2 linked regions of the Homo sapiens genome follow. The protein of the gene in region 2 purifies or fractionates together with the protein of the main gene of each other region. This does not show direct contact. Each region holds a gene or a part of one and is shown on either strand. Other genes may lie near its edges.

Evidence for each region. Proteins that work in one complex are often made in the same cells at the same time.
Region 1: the proteins of COQ8B (region 2) and TMEM165 purify together in Homo sapiens (affinity purification with mass spectrometry; one large-scale study listed by BioGRID and IntAct). This does not show direct contact.

What each region holds. Positions count from the first base shown.
Region 1 is NC_000004.12:55,423,316-55,426,675, reverse strand, and holds the end of TMEM165 (putative divalent cation/proton antiporter TMEM165 precursor), read right to left. Parts: intron 2,139-3,360; coding exon 2,033-2,138; intron 1,301-2,032; coding exon 1,224-1,300; 3' UTR 501-1,223; downstream 1-500. UniProt on the Homo sapiens protein: Putative divalent cation:proton antiporter that exchanges calcium or manganese ions for protons across the Golgi membrane.
Region 2 is NC_000019.10:40,710,387-40,713,886, forward strand, and holds part of COQ8B (atypical kinase COQ8B, mitochondrial), read right to left. Parts: intron 1-3,500.

The DNA of each region.
Region 1 (3,360 bases), on a different chromosome or scaffold from region 2:
CTCTGGGTCTCCTATTATACCTCACACAAATAACATGGATGTTTCTGTAGAATTGTCCTTCAATTTAGTGAGGCTATTAATGGGAATGTTACTGCATATGATTCTAGAATATAAAAGGCTGAGAGAAAGCAGCTGTTATGCTACTTGGGTGAAGTAGTAGTCAAATCAAAATATACTCAAACGAGGGTGACGACTGAAGTTGCCATGAAAAAATGAGGTAGTCTTAGCATAATGAATGACATTAGGCTCTGGAATTAAACCGCCTGGTGTGACTCTACCATGTAACCTTGGGTGAGTTAGTTTTTTTCTTTTTTAACCTTATATTAGTACCTACTACCTCACAGAACTGTAAGGGTGACAATGCTTTCGAACAATGCCTGGCTCCTGTTTAGCTACTTTAGGCATATCTCAAATATTTAATATGTTAGTGTTTTTACATCAGCTTTAGAAATTGGCCTATCAATACTGATAATTTTATATGACACACAAGGAAAAACAAGCACTGGTCATACCACTTTTATTTATATTGTTATCTATGTTACATTGTTTATTCAATATAGAAAAAATATGAATACATTCATAGTATTCTCTTTTAATTTGGTAATTCCACATTGTCAAATATTGACTGTTTTTATATTGGGTGTCCTACCCAATTAAAAAAAAAAGAGGAAGAATGACCTGGCAGACAGTTCTTGTTGTGCCATGTTATTGATATAACAGCAATATCATATATGTCTCTTTTTTTAAACACCTAGTTTTGAAAAGACCAATGATTAAACTACTGTTTACTGGCTCAGGGAAATGTTTTAAGAAATAGAAATTAATTCATTCTTTCCCCAAGAAAAACTTTAAGGTAAACATCTTAAAACACCTAAGTGATGAAGGAGAAAATTTGTATTCCTTAAAAAGGGGTCAGTGCTGAAAGAAAATTGCATGGTAGACCCCACTGCACAACGGTTCTGCACCAAAAGAAAAATGAGGACCATATTAACATAATTATGTTGGAGAGAAGAAAAACCCACACTTAGAAGTCAGGTTTCTTTTAAAACTCCTTGTTACAAATAGAATCAATGATTATATCTCAGACATAATAATGGGTCAAACTCACAAAATCAGTGCTACAAAATACAGTATTTTTCCATCACTTTTAGTTGTAATGTACACTATGTACAGAAAGATAATACTACCTATTTTAAACTAAATATAGATGAACAAACAGCTTGTTAAAAACCAGAATCAGGGCTTATAAATAGTGCAGAAAATGCAAACGCCAAAAAAACGATGCCTCCTATGATTGTCACTGGAAGAGAGAGAAAAAAAGTCAAATACAGTAAAATTCCTATACCTTGATACTGTACAAAATGAAAAGGGAGCCGATGAGGCGGCCAATTATTCTTCCAATCTATTAAACTAACCTTGAAAACAAATTAGAATCACTTCAACCCCTTTTACATAACAAGGAACAATACTTAACATGCTTGACTGTGAACACTAAGAATCAGGTTTTCTCCAGCACTGTTTTGAGAAATGACAGGATTGTATTAAATCCAGACAGTGCTGGCAAGCAACAGTAGAACTATAACTCATCTTAAAATCCAGTTATAAAAGAAAATGTTCAGGTCTTCTGACTAGCAAAGAGACGATTCTTCCATCTCTAGACCTAACTGTGGCTTCACAGGACATATTCAGCAGAATCAGTACATATGGTCTCCACATGATTCCAGTCTTGTAAGACACATTTTTAGAGCCAAAAACTTCTCATACTTCCAAATGACAATTGTTTTACTAAGATAATATGTTAACAAGAAGCTACTATGAATTCGATAAAAATGACTTTGTATTTTGCTAACTTCTACACAGGTGAAAAAAGTCCGTATTTGCAATACCAGGATTAATACCTCTATAAGAGATGGTAGGTAATTAGAAAAACCAAGTATACTTCAGCAGCAGAAATTTAAATAATCAAAGCTAACACCCTTTAATCTCTCAGTGATTCTAAAATGTTATCTGATTTGTAATTTTCAAGACTTACCAGTTCTGACAGAGATTTTCTGTGCTATCATTCTTCCTCCAATTACTGCCAATCCCGTGCACAGGCAGTGCCCCACAGTTCCACCCACGGCTACACCATAGGGGTCCTGGAAGCAAGCGTCACAGCATTAATTCAAAACCAAGGTGACAACTGCTGCTTGAGAACCATAACAATTCAGAAGCACTAAAAATGGTGGCCAACAATTAAAAAGCATAATAGTTATAAAAATGCAGGTGTATAATAAATTTATGAGAGGTGTAATGGCTGCTTGAAGGAATATGTACCAGTTATACTTAAGACTAGACCTAAAAGTTGAAATAACCCAAATCAATTTGTAAAGTCAAACAAATCCTGATGAAATAAAGCTAATCGAACCTTTCAGCAGTTATTAAACTTCCTTCACAGGCAATACGTAGCACTGCTATGACAAGTGCTAGGGAGGATTTTAAGCTAGACATCTGTTCCCTCAGATACTGCTTGGTATTAGGAGAAACTCAGTCAATCCTTCACAGAATAGTATGCCTCTGCTTCCTGGGAACAGAAACCCTGCCTCAGTGCCAGGAATCAAGGATTTATCCAGTGAACACATGTTACCTGAGCAAAGCAGACACTCAGATTAGGGGGAGAGGGGTATGTAGTAAAAGTTTCCCAGAAGATAGTCCTGAAGAATGAACAGGGCATAGTGAGAATGTGATTTTGTTTTGTGGGAGAAGGAACATGCTAAATAGAAAGCAAAGGCCAGCAGTACCAGACAACCAGCTGCAGAGCCCTTCAGCATTTCACAAAAGGAGGTCATGAGGGTAGGTGGGAGTCCAGGTGAGGGAGGACCCTATCATCTTGGAGTTTAAACTGTGTCCTCAGACACTTGTTGGTTTTTAGCTGGAAAGTAACAGAACAGATTAATGCTTCAGAAATCCGCTAGGCCAGGTGCAGTGGCTCATGCCTGTAATCCCAACACTTTGGGAGGCTGAAGCAAGAGGATTGCTTGAGCCTGGCAGTTTGAGACTAGCCTAGGCAACACAGTGAGACCTTGTCTCTACAAAAAAATTAAAAATTAGCCAGGCATCCTAGCAAGCACAAGTGGTCCCAGCTACTCGGGAGGCTGAGGTGGGAGGATCATTTGAGCCCAGGAGGTCGTGGCTGCAGTGAGCTATGATTGTTCTCCATCCTGGGCAACAGAGCAAGACCCTATCTCAAAAATTTTTTAAAGTCTAGTGGAGAGAAAGAACCAGAGGGGAACAAGACTGAAGGAAGGGTGATCCACTGCGATGCTATGGCAACAGCCCTGGGAAGAAACTGCGTTGCCCCAGATCGGGGCAGATGACTGT
Region 2 (3,500 bases):
GGCACGCGCCCACCACGCCTGGCTAAATTTTTTTTGTATTTTTAGTAGAGACGGGGTTTCACCGTGTTGGCCAGGCTGGTCTCGAACTCCTGACCTCAGGTGATCCTCCCGCCTCGGCCTCCCAAAGTGCTGGGATTATAGGCATGAGACACCGCACTCAGTCTTGTCTCCCAATTCTTTGTATCTCTGTTTCCAAATCAGTCTCTGACTCTGTTCCTGCATGGGGCTCCCTTTAAGGTGCAGCTTCCTCTTTCTTTAACCCTTTCTCCATGTCTCTGTCTCCCTCCCAGCAGTTCTCAGCCCTGGCTGCACATTCCAGTTACCAGAGGAGCTCCGGTAAATATAATGCCCAGACTCCACTCCCCAAATTCTGATTAAATTGGCCTGAGACATGGGAATTTGTGTTTTGTTAAAAAGCACCTCAGATAATTCTAATGTGCGATCAAGGTTAAGAAGGCCCCTCGGCCGGGCACAGTGGCTCATGCCTATGATCCCAGCACTTTGGGAGGCCGAGGTGGGCAGATCATCTGAAGTCAGGAGGTCGAGACCAGCCTGGCCAACGTGGAGAAACCCTGTCTCTACTAAAAATACAAAATCAGCCGGGCGTGGTGGTGCATGCCTGTAATCCCAGCTACTCAAGAGGCTGAGGCAGGAGAATCGCTTGAACCTGGGAGACAGAGGTTGCGGTGAGCCGAGATCACACCATTGCACTCCAGCCTGGGAAACAAGAGAGAAACTCCGTCTCAAAAAAAAAAAAAAAAAGAAGGCCCCGAAACAATTGTCCTAGGTCCCTCTGTCTTCTGGTGACTCTTCTTTCTCTGTCCACACCTCCTCTTCTTTATGCTTATCTCTTTTTCTTTTTAGAGACAGGGTCTCACTCTGTCGCCCAGGCTGGAGTGCAATGGCACCATCATAACTCACTGCAGCCTCAAATTCCTGAGCTCAAGTGATCCTCTTCCCTCAGCCTCCTGAGTAGCTGAGACCACACGTGCATACCACCACGCTCACCTAATTTTTTATTGAGACAGGGTCTCACTATGTTGCCCAGGCTGGTCTGGAACTCCAGAACTCACGTGATCCTCCTGCCTCGGCCTCCCAAAGTGCTGGGATTACAGGTGTGGGCTACCAGGCTTGACCTCTCCCTTTCTAAGCCAGTTATTTCTGCATCTCTTGCCTTCTCCCCATTTGTCCTATCTATCTAGATCTCTTTCTCTCTTTTCCTCCCTTTGATGTTATCTCTCCATCTCTGATTTCCTCTGCTACCTCTCCTCTTGTCCCTAAAGACGTCTCGGGTCTCTCTCCTTCTTTTGTTGTCACCATCTCTGTCAATTACCATATCTGGCATTTTCTGTGTCCTTTCTACATGTCAGGGGCTGTTCCCAGTGCCTTCTGTGCACTTACTAATTTTTGTCCTTACATGAGGTCTCCACCTTCATAAAATGTATTTTACAGAAAACTTCCATTTTACAGAAAAGGAAATTGAGGTTCAGAGAAGTGAAGTAATTTGCCCAGAGTCACGTCACAAAGCGAGGACACAGCAGAGTCATCCCTTAATCCCTGGGCAGCCTGGTGCCAAAGCTCTAACCAGTGCCTTTGACTGCCTCTGCAGACTGTGAATCTATCTATGTATATATATATAGATTTTTTTTTTTTGAGACAGAGTTTCACTCTTGCTGCCCAGGCTGGAGTGCAATGGTGCGATCTTGGTTCACTGCAATCTCTACCTCCTGGGTACAAGCAAGTGAATCTATATTTTTAAAACTTGAACCAGGCGGGGCATGGTAGCTCACGCCTATAATCCCAGCACTTTGGGAGGCTGAGGCAGGTGGATCACGAGGTGAGGAGTTCGAGATCAGCTTGACCAACATGGTGAAACCCCATCTCTACTAAAAATACAGAAATTAGCGGTCAGGCACAGTGGCTCACGTCTGTAATCCTGGCACTTTAGGAGGCCAAGGCAGGCGGATCATGAGGTCAGGAGATCGAGACCATCCTGGCCAACATGGTGAAACCCTGTCTCCCTAAGAAAAAAAAAAAAAAAAACAACAAAAAATAGTTGGACGTGGTGGCGTGCATCTGTAACCCCCGCTACTCAGGAGGCTGAGGCAGGAGAATTGCTTGAACCTGGGAGGTGGAGGTTGCAGTGAGCTGAGATCATGCCACTGCACTCCAGTCTGGGTGACAGAGCAAGACTCCATCTCAAAAACAAAAACAAAAACAAAACTTGAACCATGATCAGCAATAAGAAGACATTTACGTTATAACCAGTGCAGACCAAGGTATATGTTTCACGAAACAAGACTTTCCCTTGCTCTACAGGTGCATGCATATTTTCTGTCCTATTCTTCTTTTTAAATGCTGGTTGCAACCCACTAAATTATTTCATGTGACTTGCACGACATCCGGCTGTGTAACCCAAAGTCAAGTGACCTCCCCTTTGTTAGCCTCAATGTCCTCATGTACGGAATAGAACACTCATTGATTCAGTGCAGCATGTGTGTATATGGGACACTGCACATTACAGGTTCTCAGTAAATGTTATTATGGCCAGGAGCAGTGGCTCATGCCTAGAACCCCAGCACTTCGGGAGGCCGAGGCAGGAGGATCGCTTGAGACCAACTTGAGCAACATAGGGAGACCCTATCTCTACAAAAAAATATTTTTTAAATTACCCAGGCCAGGCACAGTGGCTTCCCGGGCACCGTGGCTCACATCTGTAAATCCCAACACTTTGGGAGGCCGAAGTGGGTGGATCACTTGAGGTCAGGAGTTCAAGACCAGCCTGGCCAACATGGTGAAATTCTGTCTCTACTAAAAGTACAAAAATTAGCCAGGCGGCCAGGTGTGGTGGCTCACGCCTGTAATCCCAGCACTTGGGAAGGCTGAGGCAGGCGGATCACAAAGCGAGGACATAGCAGAGTCATCCCTTGAACCCTGGGCAGCCTGGTGCCAAAGCTCTACCACTGCCTGACAAACATGGTGAAACCCCGTCTCTACTAAAAATACAAAAATTAGCCGGGTGTGGTGGATGCATGCCTGTAATCCCAGCTACTTGGGAGTGTGAGGCAGGAGAATCGGCTTGAACCCGGGAGGTGGAGGTTGCAGTGAGCCAAGATGGCGCCACTGCACTCCAGCCTGGGTGACAGAGGGATACTCCGTCTCAAAAAAAAAAAAAAAAAAATAGCCAGGCATAGTGGCAGGCACCTGTAATCCCAGCTACTCAGGAGGCTGTGGCAGGAGAATTGCTTGAATGTAGGAGGCAGAGGTTGCAATGAGCCAAGACGGTGCCACTGCACTCCAGCCTGGGCAACAGAGCGAGACTCTGTCTCAAAGGAAAAAAAAAAAAAAATTACCCGGGCGGATGGTGCACAACTGTGGTCCCAGCTACTCAGGAGGCTGAGGCGAGAGAATTGCTTGAGCCCAGAAGTTTGAGGCTGCAGTGATCGCGCCACTGCACTCCAGCCTGGGTGACAAAGTGAGACTCTGTCTCAAAAAAAAAA